Homo sapiens: one gene and its partners. The protein of the gene in region 2 interacts with the protein of the main gene of each other region in a pairwise test. Each region holds a gene or a part of one and is shown on either strand. Other genes may lie near its edges.

Evidence for each region.
Region 1: the proteins of HSD17B11 (region 2) and UNC50 interact in binary tests that used the Homo sapiens proteins (3 or more experiments, as listed by UniProt).
Region 3: the proteins of HSD17B11 (region 2) and DHRSX interact in binary tests that used the Homo sapiens proteins (3 or more experiments, as listed by UniProt).
Region 4: the proteins of HSD17B11 (region 2) and RASGRP3 interact in binary tests that used the Homo sapiens proteins (3 or more experiments, as listed by UniProt).
Region 5: the proteins of HSD17B11 (region 2) and TMEM65 interact in binary tests that used the Homo sapiens proteins (3 or more experiments, as listed by UniProt).
Region 6: the proteins of HSD17B11 (region 2) and ORMDL1 interact in binary tests that used the Homo sapiens proteins (3 or more experiments, as listed by UniProt).
Region 7: the proteins of HSD17B11 (region 2) and EHHADH interact in binary tests that used the Homo sapiens proteins (3 or more experiments, as listed by UniProt).

Annotation. Positions count from the first base shown.
Region 1 is NC_000002.12:98,611,589-98,615,088, reverse strand, and holds part of UNC50 (protein unc-50 homolog), read right to left. Parts: intron 1-3,500. UniProt on the Homo sapiens protein: Involved in the cell surface expression of neuronal nicotinic receptors. Binds RNA.
Region 2 is NC_000004.12:87,336,015-87,339,188, forward strand, and holds the end of HSD17B11 (estradiol 17-beta-dehydrogenase 11 precursor), read right to left. Parts: intron 1,353-3,174; coding exon 1,262-1,352; 3' UTR 501-1,261; downstream 1-500. UniProt on the Homo sapiens protein: Can convert androstan-3-alpha,17-beta-diol (3-alpha-diol) to androsterone in vitro, suggesting that it may participate in androgen metabolism during steroidogenesis.
Region 3 is NC_000023.11:2,238,977-2,242,476, forward strand, and holds part of DHRSX (polyprenol dehydrogenase), read right to left. Parts: intron 1-3,500. UniProt on the Homo sapiens protein: Oxidoreductase that plays a key role in early steps of protein N-linked glycosylation by mediating two non-consecutive steps in dolichol biosynthesis.
Region 4 is NC_000002.12:33,556,649-33,560,148, reverse strand, and holds part of RASGRP3 (ras guanyl-releasing protein 3), read right to left. Parts: intron 1,939-3,500; coding exon 1,813-1,938; intron 1,478-1,812; coding exon 1,119-1,477; intron 1-1,118. UniProt on the Homo sapiens protein: Guanine nucleotide exchange factor (GEF) for Ras and Rap1.
Region 5 is NC_000008.11:124,320,702-124,324,201, forward strand, and holds part of TMEM65 (transmembrane protein 65), read right to left. Parts: intron 2,675-3,500; coding exon 2,620-2,674; intron 1,447-2,619; coding exon 1,404-1,446; intron 1-1,403. UniProt on the Homo sapiens protein: Essential for maintaining proper cardiac intercalated disk (ICD) structure and function as well as cardiac conduction velocity in the heart.
Region 6 is NC_000002.12:189,777,840-189,781,339, reverse strand, and holds part of ORMDL1 (ORM1-like protein 1), read left to right. Parts: intron 1-3,500. UniProt on the Homo sapiens protein: Plays an essential role in the homeostatic regulation of sphingolipid de novo biosynthesis by modulating the activity of the serine palmitoyltransferase (SPT) in response to ceramide levels.
Region 7 is NC_000003.12:185,247,550-185,251,049, forward strand, and holds part of EHHADH (peroxisomal bifunctional enzyme), read right to left. Parts: intron 969-3,500; coding exon 865-968; intron 1-864. UniProt on the Homo sapiens protein: Peroxisomal trifunctional enzyme possessing 2-enoyl-CoA hydratase, 3-hydroxyacyl-CoA dehydrogenase, and delta 3, delta 2-enoyl-CoA isomerase activities. Catalyzes two of the four reactions of the long chain fatty acids peroxisomal beta-oxidation pathway.

The DNA of each region.
Region 1 (3,500 bases), on a different chromosome or scaffold from region 2:
TCACTGTTCTACAACATGGCCTACTAGTTTTTCAGTTCAATGATGAATAAAAAGTAAAATATCCAAGTAACAGAAAAGTAAGATCTTCAAAGAACAAAACTTGTATTATAAACATATATTGGAAATTCAATGTATTTTTTAATGTATTATTTCATTTCATCTCAAGGGTACAATTAAGAATACGCTATTCCGTCACTGGGGATAAAAATGGAAAATAAACAGAGGTACAATACTAATGTTAACAGTCCCTGCATTTCGTTATCTGAAAATGCCAAAACAATACTGAACAAACTAGAGCTTACCAAGACAGTTTCCTTTTTAGCCAAGAATGTGTGCCATTCAAATTTTATGGAATCAGTATGTAGCTCGCTCCCCAAGAGCGCCCTTTCTGTAGACGTTCTCTGCTGCCCCTATTCTCCCGCTTATCCCAAATGGGCGCTTTTCAAGCTTCTGGCCTCAGTGAGAGTCTTTCCTCTGAAAGACAGATGTGCCTTCCGAGAGCACTCCAAGGCACTGTGGTTTTCACCTCCCAGCTCCATATTAACGCCAGTCAGAGGCTCATCATGGCCCAGACTCTTGCCTCTAGGTCTAGAGTCATCAACCTCAGTGTCTACTGACCTTCTTTTCACTCTTCAGGAAGCTCCCTGAACTCAACAGGCCAGCAAGGGCTGCTTCATCTGCATCTGCTGCTTCCTCAGTCATCTAAGCCAAAATCTTACAGGTCATCCCAAAGGAGCCTCCCACCCACTCCCTCTTCCTGATCCCCCCTCATACCTTGTTATCTCAGGAAGCTCTCGAATCCATCTCTCCTCTCTATTCCTATCACCACCATACTATCTGGGCCTCCTCTACTCCTACGCAGACCTCTGCAAGTGTATCCAGCCTTGCCCACTCACTACTCCAACTTTTGCCTCCTCCACTGCCATGGAAAAGATAGTGTGAGTTTGACATTATTTCCTTACTTTAAAGCCTCAAAGCTCCCCACCTCCTTTTGCCCCCAACCCACACATGCAGTCTATGAGATAAAGTCCAATTTTTTTCCTGAATGGCATGAAGGCCAATTTCTCTAGTCACATCTCTTCCCCAGTGACTCGGTGTCACCCTATGCTCCCAGACCTAGTGTGCTGTTCACACCTCTATGCCATTGCACTTGCAATTCCCAGCACCAGGAGTCAACTATTCCCCATCTCCACAAACCACCACCTTATGCTGGCTTCTGTAGCTCCTCTGTGATGGTCATCATTACATGTAGTCATTTCTCTTTCTAGTTCCTCACACAACATAGGTTCTCAAAAATACACTGAATCCCTTTCTATTTAATTCAAACTATGATACAGACTCACATGAAATGTGCTAAACTCCAGGCTGATTTGGTCCCCTTCTGTGCCTGATATTGTTTGGCTGTGTCCCCAAAATCTCATCTTGAACAGCAATCCCCAGAATCCCCACGTGTCAAGGGTGGGGCCAGATGGACGTAATTTCCCCCATGCTGTTCTCGTGATAGTCAGTGAGTCTCACAAGATCTGATGGTTTTATAAGCATTTGGCATTTCCCCCACTTGTACTCACTCCATCCCGCCACCCTGTGAGGAAGGTGCCTGCTTCTCCTTTGCCTTCTGCCATGATTATAAGTTTCCTGAGGCCTACCTAGCAATGCAGAACTGTGAGTCAATTAAACCTTTTTCCTTTATAAATTACCCAGTCTCAGATATTTCTTTATAGCAGCATTGAGAACAGACTAAGACAGTGGCCTCCAGAATTACTGCATTCAGGGCAGAATGCTTGTTATGAATGAAACTATTCCTTTGAAAGTCTTATTTATTGAAATTTTAAAACACACCATTTGTTTTTCATGAATTTCTTGGTAATGAATACGTGACTTACATTAGTATTAATTCTAGGCCAGATTTTAGAATTTTATATTAACAGTGGACAGCATTTATTGGCTAACTAGCACATACAAAAGCTCTGCTGTACTAGTCAGAAGTTACAAAGGAAAATACAGGCATATGTCATTTTACCACACTGCACTGTACTGCGCTTCACAGAAACTGTAGTTTTTAAATTTTTACGTATTGAAGGTTTGTGGCAACTGTGTCCAGCAAGTCTGCCTGTGCCATTTTTCCAGCAGCATATGCCCACTTCATGTCTCTGTGTCAGCATTTTTAAGCAATAAAGCATTTTAAATTAGTCTGTACATTGTTTTTTAGAGCCATAGTGCTATTGTACACTTAAAAGACTACAGTACAGTGTAAATATGATTTTAATATGCACTGGGAACCAACACATCTGTGTGACTCAGTTTATTGTGATATTTGCTTTACTGCAGTATCTGGAATGGAACTAGCATATCTGAACTATGCCTGTAAAAGGGTGGTATTGGCTGGGCGCGGTGGCTCACGCCTGTAATCCCAGCACTTTGGGAGGCTGAGGCGGGAGGATCACCTGAGGTCAGGAGTTTGAGACCAGCCTGGCCAAATGGCAAAACCCTGTCTCTACTAAAAGTATGAAAATTAGCCAAGTGTGGTGGTGTGTGCCTGTAATCCCAGCTACTCAGAAGGCTGAGGCAGGAGATTCGCTTGAACCCGGGAGGCGGAGGTTGCAGTGAGCTGAGATCACACCATTGCACTCCAGCCTGGGTGACAGAGTGGGACTTCGTCTCAAAGAAAAAAAAAAAAAGGCTGGTATCAGAAGTTATAGTTGCAGAGTTTTGCTTAAAATATTAGTAACTACCAAATATTGAACACTTAACTGTGTCAGGTAATTTTCATAACATAATTATCTCAAAAATTGGACAGAATAGGTAATTAACTAGATTTTGTAAAAGAAGAGACTGGGACTAAGAGTTTCACAGATAACTAAGTTGGCATTTGAACCCAGGTCTCTCTGCAACTAAAATGTTCTCCACAATGACCACCATGTCTACCCAACCACTGGTCCTCTACTGAGATCGCTAGCCACATCCCCTGCCCTTCATCCAGCATGCCAACCACACAGGAGGACTTTACCAAACACCAGATTTATCCTCAGTACACTGCTGTTGCTAAATCAACCAAAGTCAGACTGAGAACCCTTCTGATAAAGCCCGTGTGTGTGTGTGGCGGTGGGGGGGCGGGGGGGGCGGAGGGTGTGTGTGTATGAGAGAAAGAGAGAGAATTTTATTCTCAGTAGGAAGGCATGAGAAGTTTAAAAAAAAAATCCTTCTTTTTCAAGTATACTTCATTTAATGCAAAGATTCAAAGTAAGACTCCACAAAATAACCCTTTAGATCTAAATGGATTTAAACACAATGAATATCAAGAAGTGGTCTCTATTGACAAATGCAGAAAACCATGCTATCATCCAGACAACTTAAGCAGAACTGGCTAAATCTGTAATATTTTTGCAAAACCAGGCATTTTGTTAGTATGCAGAAAATAAATCTCGGGACCCCAAAATCACTAAGCCAAAGGGAAAAGTCAAGCTGGTAACTGTGTCAGGCAAACTTGCCTCCTATTTTAT
Region 2 (3,174 bases):
TGGGTTCAAGTGATTCTCCTGCCTCAGCCTCTCAAGTAGCTGGGACTACAGGCACCCGCCACCACACCCAGCTAATGTTTGTGGATTTTTAGTAGAAATGGGGTTTCACCATGTTGGCCAGGATGCTACTGCTCCAAAGAAGTGCTTCTCAAATTTTAATATGCATACAAATCATCCGCCCGCCTTGGCCTCTCAAAGTGCTGGGACTATAGGCATGAGCCACTGCGCCTGGCCTACGCCCAGCTAATTTTTGTATTTTTAGTAGAGATGGAGTTTCACCATGTTGGCCAGGCTGGTCTCAAACTCCTGACCTTGTGATCCACCCACCTCGACCTCTCAAAGTGCTGGGATTGCAGGCGTGAGCCACTGTGACCAGCCGTGTTTGATATAGTCTTGAAAATATTTTTCTTTCGTAGAAGAAACCTAACAAACCTACTAAATTTTTAAATTTATAGATCTGATCTTATAGTCCCATCTCAATGAGCCTCACATCCAAGAAATTTCCAGTTTTTAAAAAAAGATTGCACAATTTATTTTCCTTTAATTTGAAGGTTGTCATGTTCTGTTTAAGACAAAAAGATGGAAACACCAAAAGTTTAAGTGTGATCCATTTATTATTGCTGCCATTTGTGGGTACATTCTCTCAATTCTCCTTAAATCCCAGTGATGCTTTTATACTTGCAACACGTGTATCCACCTCTAGCTTCCCTGTGCAGAAATGTTTGGCATTGGAATGTGAGGTATCTCTCAGGAAACAGAGTGGCAATGGGTAGGATGAAACCTACCCATTGAGAGTTCATGATATTCATTGTGAAATACCACTAGATATAGTCCTTCATTTTATTTAGAGAGCTTGAAGTTTCTGATTTTATGTAGAACAGAAAAAGAAACACAAATTATACAAAATTTAAGTGCAATCAAAAATAAAAATATATGTTAAATAAACGGTTATGGTACAAATTTTGCAAAGCCTTCAGGTGAGCCACAAATAATCTTGGAAATTATTTTAATAAAGTCATTTTGGTTCTTTTTCTTCATTTTCCTTAAAGTCACCTCTAAAGGTATTTCTCTGTTTATATCATATGTAATCAGCTTTTGGCTAAAGAACAAGTGGTAGTAAATGAAGACTGCCAAAGCCTCAAAAATGATATTGAAGAAATGGGGATAATTAGAAAAAACAGAAGTTCAAACATTAAAATTCTGGCACTATTAGATGACATCAACCTAAACCTGGTAAATCAGTTTTCAGAAAACTAGGTGCTTATTGCGCTTTCATTTTATATCCAATAACTGCATCAAACTTAACACTGATTTTTCGTTTTAAAACTGCCAGGAAACGCTCAGGAAGGATCCTAAAAGAAAGATATATGCAAATAATTAGAAAATTAATATTAAGTGCATTTGTAGAATACCCTCTTTAGAAATACTTTTAAGTTATCATGTATAGTCATGTTCATGTTAAATAAGATTAAGCATCTTAAATCTGAGTCACTACTATATATTCTTTCCCATTAAATCTATTTCCTTTTCAAATGGAAAAGAAGGCTTAGCCTTCTTTACAGTAGAATAACCTGAAGTAGTCAGTTTTTGAAACAAAAGATCTGAGGGAGGAGGTGTAAGAACTGAAGAGTTGAGATACTAAAGACTTTACAAAAAGAAACCCGACATTAAAAAGGAAATGAGAATAGGAACTAATTTTGTACTTTATAATGCAGAATATTATTAAAATGTTCCACTAAGAGACTGCGGAAGTAGAACTGCTAAATAAAAATGCAGACAACGCTTTGGTTTTGAGCATAATGCTGAACCAATTATTTCACCTTTCAGTTTAAATTCCTCACGTGTAAATGGAAAAATTAACATCTATCCCTCAGTGTTCTTTTGTGGAATCAATGTGTTACTATATTAAATAAAATGTCTTGGCCTGGCGTGGTGGCTCACGCCTGTAATCCCAGCACTTTGGGAGGCAGAGGCGGGTGGATCACGAGGTCAGGAGACCGAGATCATCCTGGCTAACACGGTGAAACCCTGTCTCTACTAAAAATACAAAAAATTAGCCAGGCATGGTGGCGGGTGCCTATAGTCCCAGCTATTCAGGAGGCTAAGGCAGAAGAATTGCTTGAACCTGGGAGGTGGAGGTTGCAGTGAGCCCAGATCATGCCATTGCGCTCCAGCCTGGGCGACAGAGCGAGACTCCGTCCCCCACAGCACCCCCCCAAAAAATGTCTTGAACAGTGACGGACACTAGCAGGTCTCATCTCTTTTCTCCAGACACTACACTTAGAATATTTAGGGAGTTGTCACATTCCAGTGGGTCTGGGAGAAAACAAAACAGAATATGTAAATCAACATAATAATATACAGAAATCTGCCTAGATGGCATGAAAAGAGGGTTTGGAAATATGACACCAATGTGACCTCATAACAAGAATTAGGGCAATGATAATAATAATAGTAGTAGTTATAATAACAGTGGCATATAACATTTATTGAGTACTTACAATGTACTGAGTACTTTTTATTTTATTTATTTATTTTTGAGGTAGGGTCTTGCTCTGTTGCTCAAGATGGAGTGCAGTGGCATGATCATGGCTCACTGCAGCCTCAACTTTCTGAGCTCAAGCAATTCTCCCACTTCAGCCTCCTGAGTAGCTGGTACTACAGGTGTGTTCCAACACGCCTGGCTAATGTTTTTGATTTCTAGTAGAGACAAGGTCTTATTATGTTGCCCAGGCTTGTCTTGAACTCTTGACCTCAAGCAATCCTCCTGCCTCAGCCTCTCAAAGTGCTGGGATTACAGGCGTGAGCCACCGTGCCCAGCCCTGAGTACTTTAAGAGCATTATTTTCTTTATTCGTCTCAGCCCTATAAAGTCCAATTGTTTTCTCCATGTTACAGATAAAGAAACTGAACTTCAGATAAGTTAAAAAACTAATCCATGTTCATGTTGCAAGCAAGTCACACAAACACAGCTTCATTCAACTCCAGAGCACAAACTTTGAGTCTTTATGTTTAAAGGTCTAGAAACTAGAATTAATTTATTCAATCAACAAACATTTTGGTGCCTCTAATGTGTCAGTCACTCTTCAAAATGCAGAGCATACAGTGATGAAAACTAGGCAAAATTCCTTCTTCTATAGGTTTATATTCTAAGGGGCTGCGATCACTGAGTGCA
Region 3 (3,500 bases), on a different chromosome or scaffold from region 2:
AAAGACAGCATCAAGCTACTGCAGCTGTATAGCCTTTTCTTTAAAATTCTTACATTATTTTAATTTCATTTCCAGGCTAATGCATATTCTTCTGCTCTATAATTTTAAAGTTTCCACAATGTTGTCTCTTATATAAAGGCAGTATCACTCGAGCAATGCCCCGTGGTTATTTTTAATCCAAATTTGCAGATGATGATCAAAGGATTAAAGAATGATTCATGTGGCTAAAGTTGCAGTTTGCTTGTTAAATATTTAGAAAGAAATAATGTCAAGGCCAGCCATGGTGGCTCATGCCTGTCATCCCAGCACTTTGGGAGGCAGAGGTGGGAGAATCACTTGAGGCCAGGATTTCAAGGTTGCAGCCAGTGATTGTGTCATAATTCCAGCGCACAAGACCAACCTGGGCGAACAGCAAGATGCCGTTTCTACAAAAAAAAAAAAAAATGCACAGCAGCCAGGGTGACAGAGCAAGACCTGGTCTCTAAAAAATTTAAAAGAGGCCGGGCGTGGTGGCTCACGCCTGTAATCCCAACACTTTGAGAGGCCGAGGCAGGTGGATCACGAGGTCAGGAGATCAAGACCATCCTGGCCAACATGGTGAAACCCCGTCTCTACTAAAAAAAAATAAAAAATAAAAAAAAAATTAGCCAGACGTGGTGGCGGGCACCTGTGGTCCCATTTACTCGGGAGGCTGAGGCAGGAGAACGGCATGAACCTGGGAGGCGGAGCTTGCAGTGAGCTGAGATCGCGCCAACGCACTCCAGCCTGGGCAACAGAGCAAGACTCAGTCTCAAAAAAAATAAATAAATTAAATAAAATAAAAAAACAGCAAATGCTCTCCTTGGATACTGAAGTCACTCTCTGAGGGATTCATGGGGGTTTTATAAGGATGAAATGTATCCTAGTGTTGGTGTATTGCTAGCGAATACTTAGTGCTTAATAAAATAACTAATATTTTGAAATTCCTTTGCTTGAGGAATTAGAGATGTGAAGAACAACAGATCAGAAAGCAAACTGCAAAATAAGGGATGTACAGCTGGGCGCGGTGGCTCACGCCTGTAATCCCATCACTTAGGAAGGCCGAGGTGGGCGGATCACCCGAAGTCAGGAGTTCGAGACCAGCCTGGGCAACATAATGAAACCCCGTCCCTACTAAAAACACAACACTTAGCCAGGCTTGATGGCAGGTGCCTGCAGTCCCAGCTACTCAGGAGGCTGAGGCAGGAGAATCACTTGAACCCAGGAGGCGGAGGTTGCAGTGAGCTGAGATCGCGCCAGTGCACTGCAGCCTGGTGACAGAGCGAGACTCTATCTCAAAAAAAAAAAGAAAAAGAAAAAGAAAAAAAGAAATTCCTTTGCTTGAGGAATGAGAGATTCGAAGAACAACTGATAAGAAAGCAAACTGCAAAATAAGGGAAGTAATTAATCCCCTCAAAAAGTCCACATTGGGGGCGGGCAGCTCATATCATGAGAGACTTTCAGACGAAATCAAGAGCAATGCCAGGAGTCCAACAGGGAGAAAAGAGAATTTGTAACCAAGCTCATTAATTCCAAAGCTTGATGAAACAGACAATTACCTAAAGGGAAAAGCTGTCTAAACTGACTCAGAAAGAGGTGGGAAACTTCAACAAGCAGTAGACGCCCAAGGAATTTTGAAAGCTGAGTTAGAATCGCTCTTCCGAAAATTCCTCAACCCATGCGGTTTTGAAGGTGAATCGTGGCGGTGTTTCAAAAGCAGACACTTTTAAAAATGCTAATTAGACGATTCTGCAATGTAAAGGGAGAAATAGAAAAGCTTCTCAAGGTTCTTTCTTTGTTTTGTAAACAAATTATTAAAACTTTAGTATCCCGACTTGAGATAGATAGGAAAGAAAGTAAATCTATAGCTCCCAGATACATATCACTTCAAAAGACCTCAAGGAGGACAGGCACGGTGGCTCACTACTGTATCCCAGCACTTCGGGAGACCGAGGCGGGCAGATTACTTGAGGTAGGTCAGGAGTTCGAGACCAGCTTGGCCAACATGGTGAAACCCTGTCTTTACTAAAAATACAAAAACTAGCCGGGCATGGTGGCGCACACCTGCAATCCCAGCTACTCAGGAGGCTGAGGCAGGAGAATCACTTGAACCCGGGAGGCAGAGGCTGCAGCGAGCCGAGATCACACCACGGCACTCCAGCCTGGTGATAGAGCTAGACTCCATCTCAAACAAACAAACAAAAAAACCCAAGGGAATGGCTGGGGCATGAAATCTTGCAGTGCTTAAGAAGTTAATGCATCACGACAACGAAGATCATTGCAGAAATGTGGGAGCTTTCAGCTGCTGGGTCTTAAAAACCAACACCCCAAAGTACGGTGCTTTGTCCTGCTGAACTGAAGAAGCCTCAAGATCTCTCTAACTTCCCCCTCCTGCTTCCTCTGTGTCTCCCGATGCACAGGATGAAGTTGTTCTCTGAAGTTTCCTGAAGTCTGGACATGTCAAAGAAGGAAAAATGACCAGTGTCCCCTTCCCTGAGTTTCTGAACCCACATCGCGGAGGAAAGACTGATGTCTGTCAACAGCCCTGCAGAGACTCCTCATAAACCACTGTCTGTTCTGAGGGTTCCACAGCCTCTGTCCCTGCAGAGACTCGTCATAAACCATTATCTGAGGCCAGGCGCAGTGGCTCACACCTATCATCCCAGCACTTTGGGAGCCCGAGGCGGGTGGATCACCTGAGGTCCAGAGTTCGTGACCAGCCTGGTCAGCGTGATGAAACCCCGTCTCTACTAAAAATACAAAATTAGCCAGGCGTGGTGTCACATGCCTGTAATCCCAGCTACTCGGGAAGCTGAGGCAGGAGAATCGCTTGAACCCAGGAGGCAGAGGTTGCACTGGGCAGAGGTCCCGCCACTGCACTCCACTCTGGGCAACACAGAACGAAACTCCGTCTCAAAAAAAACAAGCAAACAAACAACAATAACAAAAAACATTATCTGTTTTCGGGCCACTGTACATTGTTCAAACCCATTGACTTCTCTTTAAAATCATTTACTATTTGGAATCCTATATTCACCCCCAATTCCCCACTCCCCTTCCGCTAAGAAGAAGAGGACACAAGCGTCTGTACCCCTTTGTGTAATGGGGCAATTCCTCTGACATTCTCCTCCATGGATGAGAATACATTTGCCTGTCATTTCCTTTATTCATGTTTCAAAAAGGGCAATTGTATTTTGTGCGTTGATTTTTCAGCAAACCTTCAAATGGCAAAGGGGGATGTTTTTCCCTTGGCCCCTACCACAGCATCCCCAAACGGTCTCCAGCTCCTAAGAAGATTCATTTATGGGCACTACCTAGCTACACAGCGTCACCCACCGAGCTCGCACACAACCAAGGCTTTGGGGTGAGAATGTACAAATACATCACGGAATCCAAGCCCCCAACACCGCACACGCAGCCTGGAAGTGGTTGTGTCAGAGCTGTGTGAACCAGCGTGACTCCATCTTGAATAGGGGCTGGGT
Region 4 (3,500 bases), on a different chromosome or scaffold from region 2:
ACTTTGTGAGTATACTAAAAGCATACTGAAAGTATACTAAATTGCATACTTTTAAATGGGTCAGTTTCATGGCATATGAATTACATCTCAAAGCTGTTTTTAAAAGTGGATGTTATAGAAACAAAAAAAGTGTTTCAGCAGAAACTTACAATAAACCTTGTATGACCAGAGATAATGGGTGGCCTCCTTATGCACTGCCTTCAGTGAGGAAGGAACTAGGGGAATTTCTGGCTAAAGGTCACTGGAGTTTTTCTCATCATGGGAAATGTATGGAGACGTGTGTTTAGGTCTCCTGAAGAGTGGAATGTGGAGGACCACCCATAAGACTAAAGAGCACTGGCTTGATCCAGTAGGATCTCTGCCTAACCCAATATTCTGTTTATGAGAACAATTCGACAGGGTGGCAATGGCTGTCCTCCATGACATTGCTTTAAATGTTAGGAATATCATGCCAATTTTCTCAAATCCTTTCTCTTAATACACTATAGACTGTTAACTAATAAATTTATCTAACTCCATCTTGAATCAATTTCTGTGTCAGCATACTCTAACAAATTCCATCTGCATCCTACTTTGCTTTGCATGATTTTGCTCATGCGGAGGCAGAGCCTGGTTTAGAGATCCTCAAGGGCCTCGTATCTCTGATTCTCACCACCCCCTTTTCCATGATGCTGTCAAAAGCTTCTTTTGAGCAGAATGAAAAGTTTCCAATTCTCCTTTATCTAAAAGTCTTTTGCTTCTACTGCCTTTCTTGAGTCTGGGCCCTGGTTCTAGCTTGGAAAACCAAGCTGATCTGTATCGTGTACTGGTATTTTGGATATATAGTCATGGGTTTCTGGGGCATCATTTCAGTACGCACACATGACAGCCTTCAATAGGTTTCAGAACTTGATCTCGTTCAATTTTTTTAAATCATGATACTGAGATCCATAAAGAAGAAACATATGTCCAGGGTCACATAGCTAGGCAGTGGCAAGACTAAAAGTGATACATGTCTTCATTCCCAACCATTCTGCTTTCAGAACTACCAGGCTGCCCCCCAGACCCTCTGTAACGCTCATCTCAGCACTTTCAGCCTCCTTCTTCTGGTTTTCTTTGTGGGTTGACCTAGCACTTACCTCACCATCCTGTCTGGTCTCTTCTCCTTCATCCTGGTCAAGTTCAAACTCCGTGCCCCGGTCTACAACATCCACACCAGCATGCACCCTGGGCTTCTCATTTTCCCATTTGGCAAAGCCTTTGTCCTTTGCTGCTTTGTCATGGAACTTGGATTTCATTTTAGGGAAGGTGTGGGACCCCGAGTCCCCCCAGCCAGCCTCTGACCAGACAGGTTCAGTCTGGGTGGCCTGGCTGGTGGTGGCCCTCTGTAGCCTCACAGAGATCTTGCGAGAAGAGCCTGTAACCAGTGTGATGGCTCTGCTGTCTAAATCCCTGTGTCCAGCAGTGACTCCAGGGAACTCAAACACCTCATCCTGCGCTGGAAGTGAAAAAGGGTGGTGATTATTTGACATCTGACTGCTTGACAGCAAAGCATCAAGGTTAGTGCAAACAGCACGAGTCTGGCATGCAACATTCTAGAGGAACCGACAAGGGACAGAACTCAATTAGCCGCAGGCAAGTTACATATTCCTGAGACTAGAAAGCAGAGAGAAGCAAGGATGATTCAAGGGTTTAGCTACTGCTGCTCACCCTAAAGAAGGCCTTAGCGTTTAGAGTGACTGACCGGGTTTAGACCCAGAACCTAAATGAGGTCCAAGTGTGAGGAGGCAAGCAGAAAGAGACCATGGCAGCAAAGAAAGCAGAGGGCATTACCTGGGGGCAGCGAGGGGCTTCCAGGCAGTGACCCATGACCACTGCTCAAGGAGGGCGCCCGGGCAAATCTCCTGCAGGCCAGAACCAGGAGGTCTTTGCACTGTTTGTGACAATTGGCTCCACAGTCTGAAAAATTCCAAGGGTGTCGCAGATGATTAGTGTGTCTGATGTTGATTCAGTTTCCAGGGTGGCACTTGATTTGTCAGCCCTCCCCTCCCCCACCCCAGTTTCTGTGTTGAATTTCAGAGTTGAGCTCAGGCCCATGGGGTGTGTCTAGGATCTGGAAAGAGGCCATTGGTCTGCACTTGCCTTCCTGAGGTTCCGAAAATTCTCTTAGATTTGCTCAGCTTGGTTCTGTATGCAATTGAGGACCTAATGAGCAATTGTGCCTAGGGAGTAAATAGAGTCCAGCCTGAGAGGTCAGTTGCCTTTGCCCAAAACTAAATGCAAATCAAATGGGGTTGAGAGTCTTTCCCAGGCTTAGACGGAATCCCCACAAAGAGAGCCTATGCCAGCATTAGGGCAAGAAGCCTCAGCTTCTAGTCTCTCCCAGGCCAACTGCCTCTGATCATTTACTGTGAGGTGTTCCTCCACTCAGCACTTGTCTGGATTTTTTTTTTTTTTTTCGAGATGGAGTCTCGCTCTATTGCCCAGGCTGGAGTGCAGTGGCGGGATCTCGGCTCACTGCAAGCTCCGCCTCCCGGGTTCACACCATTCTCCTGCCTCAGCCTCCCGAGTAGCTGGGACTACAGGTGCCCGCCACCACACCTGGCTAATTTTTTGTATTTTTTAGTAGAGACGGGGTTTCACCATGTTAGCCAGGATGGTCTCGATCTCCTGACCTCGTGATCCACCCACCTCAGCCTCCCAAAGTGCTGGGATTACAGGCGTGAGCCACCGTGCCCGGCCTTGTCTGGATTTTTTTACTCTTCTTCATTTTCCAAAACCTTTCAGGGCCAGTGATTATATCTTCTGCTTCCAACAGAACACAAGATGGGCATATGCTCAGTAAATATGTTCTATATTTGCTTATGGCTTTGAAACAGCGTGCAGCAGAGTCTGTGAATTGCCCATTAGGATGTTTTAGATAAGACAGTAGAATGTTAATTACTACTTGGGGTAGAAAAATGTGGCCACTTCAGATGGTGGTTCACAATTATTTCCTATGATGAGGGTCCTGCACTTCACTGAGAATCATTGAATAGAGATGATCATTTCTCTCCTACCATCAAGGAGGACCTTTCTAACTATTTCCAGTACCCATTTTCCCCTAAGTGACCTTGTTTCAAATAGTCTTAATGATGTATTCAATCTATTTCAATTCATTTTTTTTTTCACTTTATGTGCCATTAAGAAAATACAAGAGATAATCCAAAGGTGTAATAGATTTTCATCTTTATAAAATTGCGTGTGTGTGTGTGTGTGTGTGTGTGTGTGTGTGTGTGTATTTTAGGGTATGAGGATAGAAACCAGAATAAAACTAATGACTCACTGCTGGGCAATAAGATCTTGCAGTATCTTTGCTGCTTGAAAGTAAAAATCTAAGTTAGACCAAGGCAAGTGATAGAGAAGCACTAATGGGAAGGTCCCTCTGAGCACTAAACAGTGGCTTCCATTGAGATTTGGGAAGCTTTTTGTTCATGCAAAATGAGGACGAAATACTGGAAAACGACTGGAGAAAAAAGGCA
Region 5 (3,500 bases), on a different chromosome or scaffold from region 2:
ATTCTAAGTTGCCATCATTTATTGGATACATCCTTACTTTATGAACTGTAAGAAAGAAAAAATATTGCTAATTAAACTATGTATACTACCAACAATAAGATGGATCCTGATATCAGATACGTTAAAATGCATCTGAGAATGCCTAAAATGTGGTATTTGTTATTGAATGATACCCCCCAAAAGAGAGAAGAGAAATAGTTTTTAAATACAAAGACTTCCAGAAAAATCTTCATCTCTAAACAAAAACAATTGTTTTATGATGCAATATATAGCTAAATGGCTTTAAAATCTCTTAGATCATTTGGTTCTATTAAATATATCAGAAAGCTATACAATGACTGTAATATTCTCATTATTTACTTTAATGTTGGAAACTGGGAATAGAATGTTTAAGAGATGATATCATGATACATTTATGCCAGGAATTCGAAGAATATAAAATTCTTGCCATGGTCCTAAAACAAAGAAACTTTGTTTTTAACTGTGGCTTTGGCCCCAAACTCCAGTGCAGAAGTCTAATATAAAAGGTTAAGGTTAGATCACTTAAAAAGCTGCTTTGCCTAGATTATAGGGCTAAGTAAACTTCTAAGAAAAAATTCAAATCTGAAATTGTAACACTCAAATGAGTCAAGGAAAGAAGAGACAAAATCAAAGACAGAGCAAGACAGAGCATATTTATCATAATAATGTCCACTTAGTCTAATTTATACTCCCCCAGGCTTCCCCAAGCTCAGGAAGCAACTCAGGCCATCTGCTACTTGGAACAAGAATGTAAAGAGAGAGAGAAAGCTGGCCTTTTCTAAATAGATGTCCTTAGTTTGTTTCATTATTCCTGCCACATAAAGTAAAGAGAGCAAAAAACAGCCAAACCCATATATGCTTTGGCCATTATTTCCTTTGAAAGTTCCCCCCTCTAGAAAACATGTCTAGTCAGTATCCTCAAATTCGAGCCATATCCCTTCTCTTTGGGTTTTCTGGGAGTAGGGTGAGGTGGAATAATGAGAGAGGTTCTTCCTTTTACTCCTGTCTTACCCTTGGAGATGTCTATAAAATACATATAAATACTTCAGTAAACACAAATTCCATTTTGCTTACATTATGGTAAATTTAGAATAAACTTTTGCATACATCAGAACCACTCATGAAAATTACTAAACACAACTGCCAGGGCTCCCTCTCCAGAGACACTAATAATGTATAACTGGGATATCACCCAGGCATCTATATTTGATGGATACCAAAGATTTAGTACTATTAGTTTAGAAAAAGTAAATTTGAAATTTTAATTCTAGAAAACAAAGAAAAATGAAATATTCTTTTGTTATGCTTCTCAATTAAAGAAGAGTGGGGAACAGAAAGACAGCAAGTACAGAATATACAAATGAATAAGTGAATGAACCTACCCAAGTCCAGCTAGATCTGACACAAGATTTCCCAAAGCAGCAGCTAAAAATTTGAAAAATAAATAATTGTTACATAAAAGAATAATAATTATATCACTATGTAATCAATAAAGCACTGATCTTGGAAGAGTTCTCATATTTCTCAAACAACAGCAACCATATCCAAAGTAACTCATTGGACAGCTCTTACTCTCAAGGTTTTGAAATAGAACACAATTTTGAAATTATGCTATTCTACCTCCATTAAGTAGTAGGTTTTTTTGTTATGGCAGCCAATTTCCATTTTGGTTTCAATATTAATTGTAGAATATTTTGTAGTATCTTTCATATAATATTTAAAGGAATTGGTAAAGTTGCATGTACAGCTATGAAATTCAAGAAAGTCAAGGAGAAAAATATGTTTCTTTCATTAACTCATTTACCTAATGCTTTCTACAATAAATACAACATAGAACTCTTCCCAAATTTTACCTCTGTGAAGAATAGAGTGGTAAATGGGACAGAGAAGACAGATGTTTAATCCTGTATTTCCTTCTTTGATTTTTCTACCCAACTCAAGAAAAAAAAAATTCTACCCAACTCAAAAATAAATAAATAAAAAATAAATAATAGGCTGGGCGTGGTGGCTCACATCTGTAATCCTAGCACTTTGGGAGGCCGAGGCGGGCAGATCACGAGGTCAGGCATTCAAGACCATCCTGGCCAACATGGTGAAACCCCGTCTCTACTAAAAATACAAAAATTAGCCAGGAATGATGGCAGGCGCCAGTAGTCCCAGCTACTCATGAGGCTGAGATAGGAGAATCCCTTGAACCTGGAGGTGGAGGTTGCAGTGAGCTGAGATTGCACCACTGAACTGCAGCCTGGGTGACAGAGTGAGACCCCGTCTCTAAATAAATAAATAAATAAATAAATAAATAAAAGAGACCAAGGGTAGAAATGTTTAGGGGTAACACTGAATTGCCAGAAAATCTTGTCTTAACGAAATCAATATAGCAGAGTATTGTTATCCAATAACTAATAATATAAAGTACCTAAAATTTTCAGAAAAAGTGCTACATGTACAAAACTAAGAATCAGAAGAATAGGATGAAGAAAATTAACAGATATCTCAATGAGTAAACTCATTCAAATAAATTACCCTCCTCTAAACTTAATCTACTGAAATGTTTTATAAGTGTACAATGAAATAATAACATTTACTACTGTTAAATACCTGCCATAGTTGAAATTCCCAAAATAATTCCAATAGACATTTCAATATGGGTTCCCTGAAATATGATAAAAAATTAATCTTAAAAATTAAAGCTGAAGTGACTATAAAAGAATAGCAAAGCATTAATAAAAACAGATACAAGTTAAATCAACATGTTAGTGCTGCAAAATTACATACATCATATATGCACATATAATATAGTAATTCATTAAATTATTAAATATATGCATTCATACAGAAATAACATCAATAACATTTTATTCATTCAAATTAGGCTTCTAAAAATAAAATTAGCAACACATGTAGAAATATAGTTCATCATTAAAAATCTAGAATTTCTATTTTTCTACCACAGAGAAAAATGCTTTAAAGCTCTTTGAAAACAAGACCGACTCACATTGATTTTAAATTCTGAACTATACATCTATACTATTGTTATTTACTCTATCAAAAGATTAAAAGGAGACTAAACCAGTTTCTAGGGAAATTGGGGTTTATAAAATTATCCTTATAACACTTAGCTCTTGAACCATTAAGTAGTGAAACTATACATTCAATTTATAAGCAGCAACGGCATTTAGTACAATAGATCTACACTCAAAACAAAGCCCCATCGTATCGCCACTGAATTTAATGACAGAGTTTAAGACTTTCTATATGTATATCATCATTCCTCTGAAGAAAAGAGGGGCTCATATTTTACTTTCATTTTAAAGAGGAGGAACTGAAGTGAAGACAATTAAACTATTCTAACAGAATAAAGAAGAAATCCTAGGATCTATTGTGCTAATTCAATTCTAATCCCTGAGCAATGCTGCCATTAGAAGACTTAATTTTCAAGAGTTCTCTTGAATACTGATGCTTGAACATTTCTAAAAAAT
Region 6 (3,500 bases), on a different chromosome or scaffold from region 2:
ATTTTAATTGAATCCAGTTTAGCAGTACATTTGTTGAAAGATATTTTTTAAAATGAACTTAAAGCATTAAGACAGGAAAACAGGAGAAATTGATTTTTAAAAATTAATATTTATTTTGGCCAGTCACGGTGGCTCATGCCTGTAATCCCAGTGCTTTGGGAGGCTGAGGTGGACAGATCACTTGAGCTCAGGATTTCAAGACCAGCCTGGGCAACATGGTGAAGCCTGAAATTCTGTCTCTACAAAAAATACAAAACCTTAGCCTGGCATGGTGGCAGCACATCTATAGTCCCAGCTATTCGGGAGGCTGAGGTAGGAGAATCGCTTGAGCCTGGGAGGTGGAGGTTGCAGTGAGCCAAGATCGTGCCACTGCACTCCAGCCTGGGTGACAGTGAGACCCTGCCTCAAATAATAACAATAATATTTATTTTCTATCTTCTGGAGTATATTTGAAGTTGACTGGAGGAGGATAAGAATGATGTGCTGGTAGACATGATAAATATGTGTCCATTTAGTCCATTTTATGTGATAGACTTTGTAAGAGCAAACGATGTTTTCTTTTAAATAGTGACTTCTCTGAAATATTTTACACTAATCATCTCACTTTTGTTGAAACTTCCTTTGGCTTCTATAGGATCACTTTCACCGGCATATATTTCTGACCTTCTCTTTCTTCTTATGGGGTCTTCCTTCTCTTTTCCTCTCTTAAATATTTCTATTCCCAAGGTTCTTTTCTTCATCTCTTCTTATGCTATGTATTCTACCTAGGTTACTTCATCTACCCATATTTTCAGTTTCTACCTGTAGAATAAGGATGCTCCTATTTATTTTTATCACCAGATTACTTTGCACCTTAAACCAAACAAGTATAAATGGAACTTATCTTATTCCTGATTACTCCCTTACCACCCACAATCTGATCCTCTGGCTTCACTACTAATCTTATCTAAAGGCCAAGCCAGACAGCTGAATGTTAATGGTAAAGCAATTAATATACAGGTTGAGCATCCCTAATCAGAAACCCAAAATAGAAAATGTTCTAAAATTAGAAACTTTTTTAGCACCAGTGTTGTGCCACAAGCGGAAAATTCCATACCTGACTTCCTGACAGGTTGCAATTAAAATGCAATCAAAACTTTATTTCATGCACAAAATTATTAAAGATACTATATAAAATTATCTTTAGGCTGTGTGTGTATGATGTATATGAAACATAAATGAATTTCATGTTTAGACTTGGGCCCTGTCCCCAAGATATCTCATTATGTATATGCCGATATTCCAAAATCCAAAACAATCCAAAATCTGAAACACTTCTGCTCCAAAGCATTGTGGATAAGGAATACTCAACCTGTAATGTATAGTCCAAACAGGCTGTTTAGAGAGTAAAATGGAGCTTTGGTAATAACTACTACAAGAGATTAGGTATAATCAGAACCATCGTATGCAAACAAGAATACAAGGTCACCTAAGTCTTAGGATAACTTCTTTTCCTTTATATTCCATATCCATTTGCTCAGAGCACTGTCTTCTACTGCTTTACTCTCAACTTGATCCCCATACCCTCATTTTTTCCTCAAGTAAATTACTCAGATAAATCAAATAGTCTTCTTGATGCTTCTCTACCCTTCTCCATTCCAGCTTGGCAGAGTGATGTTTTAAAAATGCATGTTTGCTCAAGTCATACTCTAAGTCATTCAGTGATCATCCATTGCAGTCATGGTAAAATCCAAGTTTCTTGTGTGACATATAAGACCAGTTGATAACAGTGCAGAAACAAGGAGACTTCACCTTGTCTCAACCATCTCTAAATAGAGGCTATACACTAGCAATAAAGAAAATCATCTTGCTCTCATTTTATTGTTTTGGCTTAAGCTTTTCTACTATATTTTCTTTTCACCTGGACCAAGTACTCTTTTGTTTTTAAGAGACTGGCGTGATCATAGCTCCTCCCACCTTAGCTTCCCAATAAATTTGAGGACTGCAGGCACATGCCACCACACCCGGCTAATTTGTTTTTATTTTAATAGTGATAGGCTCTCACTATGTTGCCCAGGCTGGTCTTGAACTCCTGGCCTCAAGCAGTCCTTCTGCACCATCCTCCAAAAGTGCTGGGATTACAGGCATGAGCCAGCATGCCCAGCCATTTTGTTTTTCTTACAGAGACAGGGTCTCACTCTGTTACCCAGGCTGGAGTGCAGTGGCATGATCATAGCTCACTGCAGCCTCGAACTCCTGGTCTCAAGTGATCTTCCTGCCTCAGCCTTCCAAGTAGCTAGGACTATAGGTGTGTGCCACCATGCTCAGCTGATTGACTGATTGAGATGGGGGTCTTGCTGTGTTACCCAGTCTAGTCTCAAACTCCTGACCTCAAGTGATCCTCCTGTCTCAGCCTCCCAAAGCATGAGTGAGCCATAGTACTCAGGGTCTACTTTTATTTTTTTTGAGATGGAGTCTCTCTGTGTCATCCAGGCTGGAGTGCAGTGGCGCAATCTTGGCTCACTGCAACCTGCACCTCCCAGGTTCAAGCAATTCTCCTGCCTCAGCGTCCTGAACAGATGGGACTACAGGCATGTGCCACTACACCTGGCTAATTTTTGTATTTTTAGTACAGATGGGGTTTCAACATGTTGGCCGGGCTGGACTTGAACTCCTGACCTCAGGTGATCCACCTGCCTTGGCCTTCCAAAATGCTGGGATTACAGGTGTGAGCTACCATGCCCGGCCCAGTCTCTACTATTTTAATACCTCTCCCTCCTTCCTGCTCTGCCTGATTTCCTACAGCAAAACTGTCCCTCCAGGAATCTACACAACTCCCATGCTGCATTCTTTTATCATGTGTTTGTCATTGTTTTATAATTAGCAGTTTATCTCTTTATGTTTTAATTTTTGTATCGCTAAGAACGTATTTAAATGTTTGCCGAATAAGTTAGTCCTTTTTTTTTGAGACGGAGTTTCACTCTGTCACCCAGGCTGGAGTACAGTGGCACGATCTTGGCTCACTGCAACCTCCCCCTCCTGGGTTCAAGCGATTCTCCTGCCTCAGCCTCCTGAGTCGCTGGGATTACAGGTGTGCACCACCATGCCTGGCTAATTTTTGTATTTTTAGTACAGACAGGGTTTCACCATGTTGGTCAGGCTGGTCTCGAACTCCCAACCTCAGGTGATCTGCCCGCCTCGGCCTCCCAAAGTGCTGAGTGTGAGCCACCACGGTTTAGATGCCATCCCTGTACCACCACCACCCCCTAACCGTGTTTCAAGTTGGTTGACCATGGACAAATGATTGGTAATTGACATTGTATAGAAAAGCAAACTTCTGATTTATTTGTTATTAGTTCACCACACTAAAAACTTAATTAGCCATCGGAGTTGCAATTACATGACTCCAAATTTAAGTTTCCTTTGAATATAGCCACATTAAACCAATTAAAAATCTGAAGTACATATTGAATGCCTTTAAAAATGAGAAAATGGACCTAATTGTTACACCCGGTTAGAAA
Region 7 (3,500 bases), on a different chromosome or scaffold from region 2:
TTATTATTATTTAATAAATAACCTACATGGTACTGGCATATAACAGGCAAGATAAATGGTAATATTATAATGATTCACATTTTTATATTTATTTATTGCCATGATTCTAACATCTGTGTCTTTTCAGACTACCATTAACACATATTAAATTTCTCTGGCTACAGTAAGGTTGAATAGGCCCCCATATCCATGTGACTTTTGTCAAAGGGTATAATGTATGAATATTAAGGAAAAGACGCCATATATGCCATTGAATAAATCACCATTTCAGCATACTTTTGCCATATTTTGTCAATAATTTTGCATCTTCACACAATAACCCAATAAAGCAGTGCCATGGTCACTGAGATGGGTGACTATCGGAAGAAAAATGAATTCTATTATAAGACTCTGTGTGAATTAAACAATAACATTTATTGACCATCTTCTTTGTGTAGGTACTGTAGTAGAGGCTTTCAGATATGTTATCTCGCTTAATGTCACAAAAACCCCTTAAAATAGATATTATTGTTCCCACTTTATAGATAGAGAAATTGAGGTTCAGGAAGTTAAAGAGATTTGCCCAAGCCCACATATGGTGGAGATACATGCAATGCAGGTATATATCAGCAGGTGTATAACAGCCATCAAGTCTGGAACTAAATATACTCTAAAAGCCCAATCCACAATAAAAGAGACTAAGCCCTTCTCTGGGTCTCTCTTGTAATTCCTGTCCCTTTCTCCACAGTGTTACTCATTCTCACTCAAGTCTGCCATATCCATTACCTACACTAAGTTATTACCAACAAGCACAGCTAATGCAGTATTGGTCTCAGTCTGTGGCTGGATTCCAGAGATGGTGGGAGAGGGTTAGACTTGAGTTACCTGCAGAAAATTTGCCCTCTGCTCCACAAATCACAATGGCTTTTATTGTATGGTCTATTACAGCTTTCTGTAGTCCTTCTTTTATGTCACGGAGTAAAGTCGTACTAAAAGAAAACAAAATACATGAAGTAAATCAGTCAGAATTAAATTCCTACCATTCAGAGTGTTTTCCTTTCCTAAAAATGAAAAATTAAACACACACATAATGGATAAAAACTGTAGATACTTCTCAATAAAGCTTCCAACAAATAATATGTCTACTATGACTATTAAATTTCTTCTACAAATAATATATATGCCTATGATTAATTAAGCACTGACCAGATTAAATTAATCCACTTTTTAAAAATGTAATTTTCCTGCACTGTGCTTTCACTTTGACCGCTTAAAATTGACACCAACCAATTTAAAAATATTATTACATGTCTTCTATATATTGTACAAGGAGTTATCCAATACTTGTACATAATTTATCATGTAAGGCACACTAAGATATCTGAGTGCTGTAATAAAGGTACAAAGAAAAAGTGATGTTGAAGTTCAGAGAAGGGTGAAATTACTTTCAGTTTTTCATATTGTTAAAATATAAGAAAATTAAATGAGAAACAGTCTAGGAGCTGTGGCGGGGGCTGTGAGTTACCTCAAATATCCATTCCTCTCCATCGTCTTCATAGTATTAAAACACTTGGTTTTTACTTGAATATATGTGATATGGTTTGGCTCTTTTTTTTTTGAAATGGAGTCTTGCTCTGTCACCCAGGCTGGAGTGCAGTGGCGCGATCTGGGCTCACTGCAAGCTCTGCCTCCCGGGTTCACGCCATTCTCCTGACTCAGCCTCCTGAGTAGCTGGGACTACAGGCGCCCGCCACCACGTCCGGCTAATTTTTTGTATTTTTAGTAGAGACGGGGTTTCACCGTGTTAACCAGGATGTTCTCGATCTCTTGAGCTCGTGATCCACCCACCTCGGCCTCCCAAAGTGCTGGGATTACAGGTGTGAGCCACCGCGCCCAGCCTGGTTTGGCTCTTTATCCCCACCAAAACTTCATTTCAAACTGTGATCCCCACGTCAGGGAGGGACCTAGCGGGAGTTGATTGGATCATGCCAGTGGTTTCCCCCTGCTGCTGTTCTGTGAGGGAATTCTCAGGAGATCTAGTGGTTTATAAGTTGCAGTTTCCCCTGCACTCATGCCTCTCTCCTGCCACCTTGTGAAGAAGGTACTTGCTTCTCCTTTGCCTTCCACCATGATTGTAAGTTTCCCCAGGCTTCCCCAGCCATGTGGAACTGTGATCAATTAAGCCTCCTTCCTTTATAAATTACCCAGTCTCGGATATGTCTTTATAGCAGTGTGAAAATGGACTAACACAAAAATATGGTTGCCCAAAATAAAGACTATATTTTCCAGCCTGCTTTACAGTAAGGTCTGCACAAGGAACTAAGTTCTAGCCAATGGGATGGAAGCATATTTGGTATATGCAACTTTGGGGAAGAGTTCTTAAAGATTTGGGTATGCTTTTCCCTTTTTCTTTCCTCCCTATTCCTGGCACCAGTGATGGTTAGATCAGGAGCAGCCACCTTGGATCAGGAGGTAGAAGCTATGTATTGAGGATGGTAGAGCAAGAGATAGACAGAGAAAATAATTGAGGCCCCTGTTGATTGTGGAGCAGCTGTATCATTCCAGGGCACTGCTGTGAGAGAAATTAGCTTTTTATTGTCTAATTCACTATTATCTTCACTATTCTGTCAGTGACAGCCAAGCGTAATCTTAACTAAGATAAGATATAAAGGCAAGATAGTGGAAAGATAGGGCATGTAGCAGATTTTGCCAAGTTTTAATATATGAGGAAGTCATCTGCAGAAGAGATAGCTAAAACCAAGACTGAATGAGTCTACCAAAGGAAAAGAGAGCTGAGGGCAGATCCTCTGGATATATCTTCATTTAAGAAGTGGGACAAGCTCAGCAGAGTGATTCAGCAAGTGAGCTCAAAGTCACAAAGACCAAGAGAGAAAATTTGTGAAGAAGGAGGGGATTAATAAGTACCAAGCAATAAGAGAATCTAGGGCAAGTGGTGAGGAACTGCTTAAAAGGAAAAACCACAGAACCAGATTCCAATCAGTTTTGCCTTGGAATTCCAAGTATTCTGAGTAAAATCTCTGTTCTTTAGTACACAGGGTTAAAAATAAATTTTAAAACAAAACAAACAACAACAAACTTCTGTAAAGGCCATATTGTTAAGACCAACAACTATTAGTTAAAACCCCAAGAAATAAAAAGGATACTTGCCCTTATTTATAATGATTCCCTTACACCTAATTACTTTTCACCTCTTAACCTAGATGAAATCAGACAAAACCTCTTGGCTTCAGCTGGTTAATTAGAAGCCAAATCTGACCATGAAAAGCAAATTCAGAACCATTATATAACATCAAAAAGTCCAAAAGGCACACATTTCCTTCTGAATAAACAATGCTTACAAAACTAGCCAAAATTAGCTCAATCAGTGCCACTGAGGAGAAGAAACCAGCTTTTCCCATTTCAACCTATCTTCCTTTTTTATGTTCATAATTTTGCAAATATCAAAAACAGGAAAAAAATGAAAATAGCTATAACAGATACGCACTTTACTAGATTCAAGC